Regions from separate parts of the Homo sapiens genome. Here regions 2 and 3 are each reported to be linked to region 1. The links are microRNA targets in miRTarBase. Many come from high-throughput screens and were not tested one by one. Region 1 holds a microRNA gene; each other region holds the end of a gene's coding sequence.
What was found. Region 1 holds the annotated microRNA hsa-miR-3176 (ACUGGCCUGGGACUACCGG, at 1,422-1,440, opposite strand). A microRNA usually pairs through its seed, bases 2 to 8, with sites in the 3' UTR of a target mRNA and lowers its output. Matches are read on the target gene's strand: a 7mer-m8 pairs with bases 2 to 8, a 7mer-A1 pairs with bases 2 to 7 and ends in A, and an 8mer does both.

Region 2: the mRNA of TMEM184A is a reported target of hsa-miR-3176. Seed matches in the 3' UTR shown: 7mer-m8 at 1,852-1,858.
Region 3: miRTarBase lists MAU2 as a target of hsa-miR-3176. Seed matches in the 3' UTR shown: 8mer at 1,548-1,555 and 7mer-A1 at 1,237-1,243.

What each region holds. Positions count from the first base shown.
Region 1 is chr16:540,711-544,775 of GRCh38, reverse strand. MIR3176 (microRNA 3176) reads right to left here and starts at 1,499; the gene lies at 1,410-1,499. All of the region lies in intron 3 of CAPN15 (calpain 15), which reads right to left.
Region 2 is chr7:1,543,466-1,547,530 of GRCh38, forward strand. TMEM184A (transmembrane protein 184A) reads right to left here. Exons shown (of 9, transcript NM_001097620.2): 9 at 1-3,716. The coding sequence ends at 3,487. Among named protein-coding and RNA genes, the nearest start is that of TMEM184A, 11 kb to the right of the region's middle. RefSeq lists an enhancer at 955-1,104.
Region 3 is chr19:19,355,425-19,359,489 of GRCh38, reverse strand. It overlaps MAU2 (MAU2 sister chromatid cohesion factor), which reads right to left. Exons shown (of 19, transcript NM_015329.4): 19 at 736-3,782. The coding sequence ends at 3,708. It overlaps LOC124904656 (a long non-coding RNA gene), which reads left to right. Exons shown (of 2, transcript XR_007067163.1): 2 at 529-779. Among named protein-coding and RNA genes, the nearest start is that of MAU2, 37 kb to the right of the region's middle.

The DNA.
Region 1 (4,065 bases):
GTGGGGGAGGCGACGTGGGGGAGGCGACGACGTGGGGGAGGCGACGTGGGGGAGGCGACGTGGGGGAGGCGACGTGGGGGAGGCGACGGGCCGCTCCTTACTGCACAGAGGCCAAGCTGGATGGAAGATCGAGGCAACTGTACAGAAAAATCCAGCACAAAAGACCCGCGCGCCCCAGTTATCTGGGCGTTGCCGACACTCAGCTCCAATTCAAAAGGGAGGTGATGAAGCCGCTCGCTGCGTGCAAGACAGAGCCCGCCCTGAAGCAGCCGGGACAGCAGCACCCGGAGCGTGGAGGCCGCGGGCCTGTGACTGGCGCAGCCCCAGTCCTGGGAGGCGGCCCCTTTCTTAGGAAAAGTGAGGAGCAGGAAGCTGCATTCTGTCCCCCGGGGCCTCGGTCAAAGCCACCAGAGCCCTGAGGCCACACCGAGAAACACAGATGCCCCGTCCGGCCGGGGCAGCCCCGCAACCTGTGCCCAGACAGCTCTCGGGGCACACCGGGGTGCCAGACTTGGTCGGCAGCTCCTCCTGCTGTGCCCAGGGCGGGGGATACCATGGGGGGCTCTGCTCAGTGCTCTGAGGGGCAGGCGTGGTGCCTCCCTCGAGCTGGGCTGCAGTCTCCTGGTCTGGCCACAGCCCGGCGCCGGTCAGCCTTGCCAGGGGGGGTCTACCCTTGTTGCCTCTCTGTGCTGAGCCGCCGGTGCCCGGCCCGTAGATGACTTACTGATTGAGGGCGCCAGGCACTCTGTCAGCTGTACAGGGACCTCAGCCCCACGCCGGCCGCATGGCCGCATGGCCGCAGGCTGCCCTGGCTCTCCCAGGCTCCACCAGCCTGTGCACCACCCCTTCATCCATGTGGGGGAGCGGTCATGGGGCCACAGCACCTGCTGTCCTGGGGCGTTGGGAGAATTCAGCGGCCACCAGGGCAGCGAGCCAGGCAGGCAGCTCTTCAGTAAACGCCAGGGCTGTCGCGCTGACCCTCCCCAGTCCCGGCGCCCTCCGTCGGAGCACGGCAGGGGTCGCCTGTGCATGCACGTGGTGGGGAGGGCTCCGCGTGTGGAGGCCCAGCTGCCTTCCCGCAGTCTGCTCGCCCACCGCTCTCGCCCATCTCTAGCCTGGGGGTCTCCTCACCATGCACCTTGGGGGCCTGTTTGCAGCAGCAGACAGGAGCTGCCTGGAGCCCAGGCCCCACAGCAGCGGGCACGGGCAGGAGTGGCCCCAGGGATGCCGACCCAGGGGAGGGCCAGGCAGGAGGCCAGGGTGAAAGAGAAAGAGCGGCGTGGCGTCATCATACACCACGGCCTGACCCCGCAGGCCAGGTCCAAAGTCTAACACACGCCCCACATACCCGGCACAGCAGACCCCACGCCTGCCCCGCGGCTCTGCCTCCCTCCCCATAGCCAGAGCCACGGCCGCCACCCCCGGTAGTCCCAGGCCAGTCCCTGGGGATCCCGGGAGTGTGGCCCGAGGCTGCCGGGAGCTGCAGACTGGAGAGGCCATCCCGAGGTCTGAAACTCGGCCTGGTGCTCAAAAAGCAGGGGCCGAGAGTCCTCTGCCCTCTGGAAAACGAGAAAGGGAACGACAATCCTTTCTACATTTTTCTGTTTAAGTTTTTTGAGACACCGTCTAGCGTCTCACTGTGTCGCCCAAGCTGGAGTGCGGTGGCACGATCGCAGCTCATTGCAGCCTGGACCCTCCCAAGCTCAGGGTTTGTATTTTTATTTTGAGACAGAGTCTCACTCTGTCGCCCACACTGGAGTGCAGTGGTGCAATCTTGGCTCACTGCAACCTCCGCCTCCCAAGTTCAAGCGATTCTCCTGCTTCAGCCTCCCTAGTAGCTAGGATTATAGGTGCCCGTCACCACGCCCAGCTAATTTTTGTTTTAGTAGAGATGGGGTTTCACCATGTTGGCCAGGCTGGTCTTGAACTCCTGACCTCAGGTGATCTACCCGCCTCGGCCTCCCAAAGTGCTGGGATTACAGGCGTGAGCTACTGCGCCTGGCCAAATTTTTTTTTTCTAATTAACCAGCTATGGTGGTGCACGCCTGTAGTTCCAGCTACTTGGGAGGCTGAGATGGGAGGTTCTCTTGAACCCAGGAAGTAGAAGCTGCAGTGAGCTGTGATCACACCACTGTACTCCAGCCTGGGTGACAGAGTAAGACCCTGTCTCTAAATAAATAAATAAGTGAATGAATGAAAAAAAGACAGGCACGGGTGGATGAGACAGGGAGAGAGGCCCCACATGGCTGGCCACCAGGGAAACGCAGATCAAAGCCAAGGGGACACCAGCTCCCACCCCCTGGGACGGCCAGAATCACAAGGACAGACAACGGCAGGAGCTGTCGAGGGAGTGGAGACGCCAGGACCCTCCCCAGCGTTGCCGGTGGGAACTAGGTAATGCAGCCGCTGCGGAAGATGGCTTGGCAGTTCCTCAAGACATTATGAAAGTTCACCACACGCCCCAGCAATCCCACTCCTAGGTATCTATGCAAGATAAATGAAAACAGGTCCACGCAAAACCTCGTAAACAATGTTCACAGCATTGTCCACAGAAGCCACGTGGAAGCAGTCCTAGCGTCCATGAATAGATAAAATGCGGTTCATCCCGCAAAGGAGCAGTGAATGAAACTGCCTCGGGCTGCAGGTGCATGAATCTGGAGGGCACGGTGCCGAGTGAAGAGGCCAGACACGGGGCCCCACGTCCTGTGGCCCCACGTCCACGCACCTTCTGCACAAGGCAAACCCAGCCAGCCACGTCCTGTGGCCCCACATCCACGCACCTTCTGCACAAGGCAAACCCAGCCAGCCACGTCCTGTGGCCCCACATCCACGCACCTTCTGCACAAGGCAAACCCAGCCAGCCACGTCCTGTGGCCCCACATCCACGCACCTTCTGCACAAGGCAAACCCAGCCAGCCACGTCCTGTGGCCCCACATCCACGCACCTTCTGCACAAGGCAAACCAAGACAGGAAGCCGGTCAGTGGCCGTCTGGGGCTGAGGGTCCCTCTGGGCTGCGGGATGCTGTAACACTGGACTGTGGGGCTGGGGGTCCCTGTGGGCTGTGGAATGCTGCAACGCTGGATTGCAATGACGGCTGCACAACTCTACAAACCACTAAGAGTGACCAAACTGCACTCTTTTAACAGGTGAGTCTGGTAAGTTCTACCTCAACAAAGCTGTTGTCGGCACACGTGGAGATGCTCACTGGGAGGCGGCTGGTGCGGTAACACCAGGAACTGGGAGGCGCTCCGGTGCCACCACACGCAGGAGGAGCACAGACCCTTCCTCTGCCGACCACCAGGCCCCACACGGCCCCTCCCCGGCCCTGCCTTTGCCGCGTCTCTCTGTCCATCAGGGTAACTCGCAGACAGGGCTCCAGGGCTCCCCCACACGGCCCCTCCCCGGCCCTGCCTCTGCCGCGTCTCCCTGTTCATCGGGGTAACTCGCAGACAGGGCTCCAGGGCTCCCCCACACAGCCCCTGGCTAATCCCCTGCATCCCCAGTCCTTGTCGGCCGGAGCTCAGGCCTCAGCGTGGATGCCACCTGGAGGCTGGTTCCCAGGCCTGGCCACCTGCCATGGCCTTGCCCACTGCCTGCAGCTCCACGCCCGTCCCTCCCACCTGGGGGCCAACAGACAGCAGGACATCGTCCCCCGTGGGAGCTGCCGCCAGGTGCAGCCTGGCAGGCCCTTTTGAGTGTGAGACGCAGGCACATTGCCTTCAGAAGCCAGGCCTGGACCCGCTGTGAGAGCAACGGCGGCCACTGCAGCACTGGCCCCGAGGCCCCGGGCCCCTGAGTGTCCCTGCCTCCAGTGAGGGCCAGGACGGGGTGACGGCAGGAGCATCGGTGGGGTCCAGCCAGTCCAGACCTCACCACCTGGACTGCCTCCAGACCAGGCACCTCAGAACCTGATGGCAGCTCCTGAGGGACGCAGCGGGTAGCCAAGGCCATGGTGACAGCTGTGAGGAGCCAGCACGTGGAGTTCGGCCACCAAGCCATGTGGCCTGTGACCCCCGGGGGGGCAGCAGGCGGAGCCCAGCGAGTGCTGGCAGCTTTGAAACCG
Region 2 (4,065 bases), not on the chromosome of region 1:
GAGAGCAAAGCGCCCCTGCACAGTGGCCGGAAGCCCGTGGACTCCTCCGAAAAGCCACGGGCCTGCCCGCATGCCGTCCCCACCCCGCCCGGCCTTCCCCGTTTTTGGGGCTGAGCTGACCGAGGTGTGAACGCTGTTCAGTGCTGGACCACGCAGGGTGAAATCCCAACTCGAGTTTTTTGAGACAGTATCTTGCTTTGTCACCCAAGCTGGAGTGCAGGGGCGTGATCACAGTTCACTGCAGCCTCGACCTCCCAGGCTCAAGCAATCCTCCCATCTCAGCCTCCTGAGTAGCTGGGACCGCCGGCACGCACCACCACGCCCAGCTAATTTTTGTATTTTTTTTTTGTAGAGATGGGGTTTCACCATGTTGCCCAGGCTGGTCTCAGACTCCTGGGCTCAAGCAATCCACTCGCCTTGGCCTCCCCAAGTGCTGGAATTACAGGTGTGAGCCACTGCACCCGATCATAATCCCAACTCGCAGCATCTGTGTGGCCTGGGGCCAGTTCCCTCCTTCCCAGCCTTGCTTCCTGTGAGTTGGGTGTGGAGGTGAGTGTGCAACAGCTGGCACATAGCGCAGTGAGTGTTGAATCTGTGCTGGGGCCACAGCAGCCCGAGCTTGTCACTAGCAATGGCAGGGATGGCACTTTCCCCAGCTAAGTCAGACCTCCCTGCAGCCCACCCTGCGGCTCTGGGCCCAGCCTGCTCCTCCTGGGGGAGCCGACGGGTGTGAGTTGGGGGCACAGAGCCCCAGCCCTGTGTGGGGCTCCTGGAGGCTGCGGACAGACGGGGAAGCTGTGAAAGGAGACACCGCCCCGCCCGGCCATGCAGCCTGCACCCGGGCCAGGCCAGGGCCCCCAGGGCTTCCACCGTTTCTTGTGGATGCTGGGGATTTTCAGCTGGACCATCTCCCAGAGAAGGATACTGAGGCCAGGAGAGGCTAGAGAGCTTGGCGGGTGCGCTGGGCCCAGATACGCGGCTCCTGCCTGCCTCATGGCCTGCTCCTCTGTCGGGGCCTGTCACCGGGAAACCCCTTTTTTAGCAGCGATGACGACACTGGAACCACGCTAGTCTCCGTCCCTCCCGCTCACATGCGCCCACGCTCCCCCTCGAGGCAGGTTGAGCCCCGGCCTGGACCGCCCCACGCTGCCTTCCGTCCACGCAGAGCGGGCTCGGCCCTCAGGGCTTTCCTTCGAGTCGTGTTGGAAAGAAGCAGAAGCAGCCTCACCCGTGGGGCGGAGGCGTCTGAGGGTCAGGAGGCAGGGAGGAGAGAGGGCCTCTGTGGAGCCGGCTGCCTGGTGTCCAAGTCCCTGCTCTGTGACCTCAGGCAACTTGCTCCGTCTCTCTGGGCTCGGTCGCTGTCCCAGCTGGCTTGAGCGTTGAGCATGTCAGTTTCCTGGCACAGTCCTCGGCTGGTCTGAGGGGGCATTTGGCGGAAACTGACTTCTCCCCTGTCCTAAAGTGCAGGCCTGAGGTGTTGCTGACATAGGGGCTCAGCCCCTGACACCTCAGCCTCTGCCGCCCGGAGCCCAGGCGGTGTCTGGGTCTCCAGAAAGGGAGCCCTCGGCCACACACCCTCCAAACGCAGATTTGAGCAACTTGACCCCTATCGGGGTGGCCTTCCCCACGGCAAGGGCAGAGCAGGCCTAGAGCCCAGCCAGTGCCCCCAGCCTCCAGAAACTGCCCCTCGGCAGCAGGTCCCTGGGGACCTGCTGACAGAGTGAGACACGGGGGCCGCCTGGTGGGTCTATTCCTGTGGGGATCCAATAAGACAGGTGGGCGTCTTTGCAGCCGTGCAGGGAGGAGCTCAGCCTATCTTATCAGGCAGCCGGGCTGGGCCCTGCAGACCCACTGGCCTTGGATCCCCATGTCCTCAGCCCAGGAAGCAAGAGGCTGGGAGCTGGCCCTCTCTAGCCCGGACTCCACTGGTCTGTGCCCGCCCTGCTGAGTCCCTCGGAGACCCCAGGTCCCGCTGTTCCTGGTGACCGTGGCCATGGGTGGGGGGCAGCACGGGTGGGAGCCGCGGTCCCGGGGTGGTGCCCACTGGAGCTTCCTGTCTGCTCTCCACGCCCAGTGCCTGAGCCCCCCAGGCCTTGCCCACTTCTGCTGCCCCTGCCCCAGCCCCCACCCAACCTGTGCTGCGGGCCCCAGACACACAGAACTGACTGCCACCTGCAGGCCGGGTCACCGTACTGTCCCCTGACGGGCCCTGGGCCTGGGGGGCGCCCTGCAGTGACACCCCTCGCCCTGGGCCAGCCGTGTGTCCTCCCAGAAGCCCCCTTAGTCCCTGGGCGGCTACTGTTCTTGCGGCCGCGATTTCCGAGGCCACTTGCACGCCTCCAGCTTCCTGCGGGCAGGGCACGCGTCCGAGGCTCCTCAAACCCAGGGCCCCACCTGGCACGTGGAGGAAGAAGAGAAGGGCAGGAGGCAGGTGCCCAGGTGGGAGCCCCCTCTGTGCCCCCTGGGAGTGTCCCCCCCGCCCAGGTACTCAGGGCCCTGCCTTCGTGGCCTTGTCCGCTCGCCGCGGGTGGGGCTGGCACAAGGCCCGTTTTGGAGGAAGTGGAGGCTCCCAGGAGAAAGGCAGTGGCTGTGATCGCACAGCCCAGGCTCTGCCCTGCACTGCCCTGGACCACGAGGCTGCCCACCCCAGACAGGTGGGACCCCTTTCCCGCATGCAGACTCTGAGCAGCAGCCTCCTGTGACCCCCACCGCGTCCTGCTCCTCAGGCTCATGCCCTGCGGGAACAGAAGCCAAGACCCGGTAGAAAATCCAAGGTGTTTAAATATAAATAAGAGCGATTCCCACAGCCCCACGGTGCTGGCCAGCCTCACAGGTGCCCGCTGGTTCTGTGACCCATCCCAGGCACACGCTCCCCTGGCTGGGCGCCTGGCCAGGGCTCCCCTGTGGCTGGCGTGTGGAGACACGTGGGCCCTTCTCCACGTGCCCACGAGGGCCGTAGCAGGCTCCAAGGAGGCCCAGCCCCGGCCAGCCTGTGTGGACCCCGCCGGCCTGCGGCGCCCGGAGCTGCTGACTGTGTCAGAGCCCGGCTGCCCAGCGCCCCGGCGCCCCTCCCTCCAGCTGCCCAGCCTGGGATCCGTCCGCTGTCTGTCTCCTGAACCAGGGAGTCTGACCCACTCACAGCTCCCATGGGGTCCGTGCAGCCAAGGCCCCGCAGCCACACTCACTCTCCGCCCCACAGTGGCTCCTGGGGCTGATGGCTGGGTGATCCCAGGGGGTCCCCAGGCTCTTCCGATTGGCTCAGGTGCCCTCTCCTGCGGTGGCGGGCCCACCTGGGTGCCTGCCAGGGCCATCAGGTGCCCTGACCCCCTGGCTGGAGGGAGGATGGGAAGTGGGCTCCGAGGGCCTCACAGGTGGGCTCTCAGGAGAGGCCCCACCTTTGGCAGGAGTTGGTGGGTGGGGGGACCCTGTTCTTCCCCAGAGGCCTGGGCAGCCTGGGTCCCTACAGCACTGGCAGCCCAGGCCCCCCTACAGGTCCTCCGAGGGGATCAGCATCCGCTTCTCCAGGCTCCGGCTCTTCCTGCTCCCGCCGGAGCCGCCGCTGGGGTGGGTGCCGGGCCTGGGCGCCTCGTGCGTGGCCTGCTGCGTGTAGTGCTGGTAGGCGGGGGAGAAGTTGTGGATGGCGTCCTGCACGATGTCCTGGGGGCTCACTGTCTCCCTGATGCCGCTGGAGATGCTCTGCATGGGTGCCGGGGGGGCTGGGGGAGGGCAGTGTATGAGCCCCACCATCCCCCCTGCACTCCAGCTCCCCGGACAAGTCCCCTCCCAGGATGCCCAGGGCTGTAGCTCCTGCATGTCCAGGTCTGGCCTCGGCCAGCAGAGGGTGGCCCCAGACCCCTGGACCCCAGCCCAGCTTGCTCCACCCAGCACCGGGCCCGTCCCTGGCCAGACCCCTGACAAGGACCACGTCCCCTAGAGCTTCCGAGGGGCTCCAAGCAGCGGAGTACGCCTTTGGCTGGCCTCGGGTGGGCACCCTGGTCTCTCCACAGTGACTGATGAGAAGCCGGCAGGCCACAGGCTGTCTCCGCCCTAATAGGGGGTGTGCCT
Region 3 (4,065 bases), not on the chromosome of region 1:
ATGGTAATTTCACCTCCAAACAAAAAAATCTGGGCAAATAACTCCCCTCACTCCCAGGTGTATGGAGGCTGGTCCCCTCTAAGAATGCAGGGACCGGCTGGGCGCGGTGGCTCAGGCCTGTAATCCCAGCACTTTGGGATGCCAAGGCAGGTGGATCACGAGGTCAGGAGTTCAAGACCAGCCTGGCCAACACAGTGAAATGCTGTTCCTACTAAAAATACAAAAAATTAGCTGGGCTTGGTGGCGGGCACCTGTAATCCCAGCTACTTGGGAGGCTGAGGCAGGAGTATCGCTTGAACCTGGGAGGTGGAGGTTGCAGTGAGCAGAGATCGCGCCTCTGCACTCCAGCCTGGGCGACAGTGCAAGACTCCATCTCAAACAACAACAACAACAAAAAAAAACACAGGGACCAGGACACCTGGGTGCATGAGGGAGTCTGCCCCTGAGAGGGCTGGGAAGGGAGGATTCCAGGAGCAGGCTGCTGAAGGCCTCATATGCTGATGGAGCATGGGGTTCCTTCCTCTCTAGGCGAGGCCAGACCAGAGGAAAATGATCAGTGGAGGAGATGGGGACTCAGGCTTCCATTCACGTCATCTGGCTCAGGATTTGGGGACTGCATCCTCATGCTGAAGACCCCGCCACAGAGGGGGCCCCTGTGGGCATGGCAGCAAGGGTGGCAGCCGTCTTTGGGATGGCTCACAAAGCGGACAGAGGAAACAACAAAGACACAGCACGTGGCTCCTGTAAGTCATTTTACTTTGAATATATAGGAAACAAAATCCACAAACAGGAAGCTATGTTCTATGGTTATGTCTTTTAAACAATGTTCTGTATTTACAAATTGTTTTTTTCCCTAAGTAAAAGCACCAGCTGAAAAGTTATAGGCTGCTAAAACCGTTACAAATATTACAAACCCATTAAAAGACATTATGCCAAACGTACTTATTAAAAACCTTAACAAAACGAAGAGACAACTGACAACGCAACCAACCAATTGAGCCACCATGCTGGGCTGGGTGGCAGTTCCAATTTCCTTGCCTGTGTTTCTGATAAACGGGGCTGGGAGTGCTTATCCCAGGGAGAGGATCCTCGCCCACCGGCAGGTGACTACAGGGACAGAGCTGGGGAGAGGCAGCTGTGTCTCAAGGAAACATGGCAGCCTCACTTCCTGCTGTAGGTGGCCTCCTGGTCAGACCCCCTCAACCCACAGGACAAGGGCAGAGGCATACAGGAGGGTCTGGCCAGCTTTCGGCTGTTCATCTGTCAACAGAATGCCTTTCTGCGACCTTGTCCTCATCCACTGAAGGGTTTGGAGTTTTTGTTTTTTCCTAGACACTTAGCTACAGGACACTGTGTGATGTGTCCTCAGGGACTTGCTGTCTGCCTTCCATTGTTTTTTTTTTTTTTTTTGAGACAAAGTCTCACCGTCACCCAGGCTGGAGTGCAGTGTCGCGATCATGCTCACTGCAGCCTCAATCTCCTGGGCTCAAGTGATCCTCCTGCCTCAGCCTCCCAGTTAGCTGGGACTACAGGCATGCGCCACCGTGTCTGGCCTCTATTCTTGCAATTGAATGAGATGCTATGAGGCGCTGAGCGACCCACAGGAAAGTACTTATCAAAAGCTTTGTGTCATGAGAAGATGCGGCTGTGGAAGGAGGTTCAAAGCTTGCACACACGCACACACACACATGCACATGATTTGGCTTCCATAAAGCTCGAGTAGAATATTAAATATTGAGTACTGAGTTTTTAATTGTAAACTTAAGATCTCATCCTTAACTTTACATATACATAGATAACAGGGTGGTCATGAAAAGCACTTTAACATCAGGACAGATGTTAAGTTCTGAGGTTCTGTTTTCAACTGCTCTACATACAAAATGCCCTACAAGCAAAGAAAGGCTTAAATAAATAGATGGGGATGAACATGATGCACGCCGTGGTGACATGAGTGGTGTGCAGGGGTCGGACAGTGCGGAACCCGGGTGGGCAGGAGCACATTGTGGAGACACAAGTGGTGGCATCTCTGGGATGTAGGGGAGGATGTGGGGGGCTCCTTCAAGGTGGAGCTAGCAGAGGCCATGGCTCGGGAGGAAGACAGGACAGGGACAGTTTGTGGGCCAGTGCCACACGCTCTCCTATTGGCTTCATGGGCCTGGGGGCAGCCCTGGGTAGCAAAGGACAGGGCCAGGCTCTCCCCCTGGAGACCCAGAGATGGCGGTGGTCCTCTTAGGACAAACCCTCACCAGCCCCGCCCTCTGACCAGCCTGTCACTGGTGCTGATGTCAGGTGGTGGCCAGTGAGGAAGGGGGTTATTGACAGCCCTGCCTGTGGCTAAGGCACACCCAGCCTGGGAGCCCCAAGCAGCTGACCTGAGCAATCCAGCGTCCCTTTAGTCACAGACGCCAAAGCTCCCAGAGGCAGTTCCACTGAGTGAGGGTGACAAGACCTAAAACCACCACCTACCCTGCTGAGCAGGACCCCCACCCCCTGTAGCAGGGAGAGGCTCCTGGGCCCCAGAAGCTGGAGGGGGTGGTGTCTTGAGCCCTGACACCTGCTGCTGCTATCTTGACCCGACCACCCGCCCCAACTCGGAATGCCACACTGTGACCACTGGGGCACCTCCTGATTATCCAAGAAAAGTGGATAAAACCAAACGCTGCTGTCTGGGCCCAGCGGAGGCTCCCTGGGGCCTGGCTAGGGTGCGGGTTTCACACTGTGCCCCAGAGACCCAGCAGGGAAGGTGAGGCGGTGGAGGGAGTGGGGGGACCAAGAGGCTGAGCAGGGAAGGCCACAGATCTGCCAGGAAGAAAGTCCCTGGGCTCCAGATCTCGGGGGCGGGGGGCCCGTGCCACGCACTCTAAGCTAGCTGAGGAGGTGATCTTAAATTTAGGAGACGAGCCCACTCCCCCGCTTCCTGCCCCTCAGCAGCCACAAGATGGGGGAAGGTGGCTGGTGCAACAGGAGCCTCAGCTCCCAGCTCCATCTCCACAGATCTTCACCGCACACCCGTGTGCATCCACATGCACACCCGTGTTTACAATCACCTGCACCCCCACGGCGGGATGGCGAGTCCGGTCAAGGTGCAGATGTTTGGAAGCTGAGTTCCTGGGTCCCTGAGGGTTCCTGACCAGAGGCCCCAGCTGCTGCAGGGACTGATGCTGGAGAGAAAGCTGGGAAAAGTGCTGGGATCTGTGCTTCGTCCCACACTAGCGCCATTACTTCTTCCCTCCAAATTCAGGCCAGAAACTGGCATCCGGGCTCTGGAAATTGCCTTGAGCAGAGGAAACACTCTACTCCCGCTCGGCATCAAGGCCTGGGTGATGGAGAGTCAGGCGTGGTGCCCCTGGGGCACTGCCTGCCCTGGCACACAGGATTAGGACCTGCTGGAGGCCTGCACCCTACTCCTGGCCGACGTGACCCAGATGCTGAGGCAGGACTGGCACTGAGGTCCACTCTGAAGGATGGCTCTGGAGAGACAGCGCCTGTGTGCCACCTGTGAGCCTCTGCACTGGGGGTCCTGCTGCGAGGTGGGAACGGCTACCACCCCTCCTGGGAGGGCAGGGACTGGCCCCGCACATTCCCAGGACTTGGAAGCTCTAGAGACAATCAGGAAGGAAGCACGCCTCGGGGGCAGGCTTGAGTGCCGTCTGGGTGGAAGCCGGAGACGCGCAGGCCCTGCGGAGCTGGATGGCCCCATCAAGGCCTCACAGGAGGCTGGCCAGGCTGGTGTTGGGTCCATTCTGAGCTTGGAACTGCACGGGGGGTGGACCGTCTGTCCACTGTGGGGAGGAGAGGACATGCGAGTGAGGCACTGTGGACCGTTCCCAGGGAAGAAGAGGTTGGAATGCTGCCTTCCTTGGGCTGCTCACACAGCCGGGACTCTGTTCTCCATGCCCCAGTCCAATGGGCCCCGAGGAGACACCTGGGTCCCTTGCTTGGGTGGGGGTGCCCATGGCCATCTCCCCCATCAAGGGATCACCTGAGGCTGAGTTAGGGTTTGTTGGACAAAAGAGAAATACAGCCAAGGTGCCCCTTCCTCTTGCAGGTGGGGAGCCCGCTAGT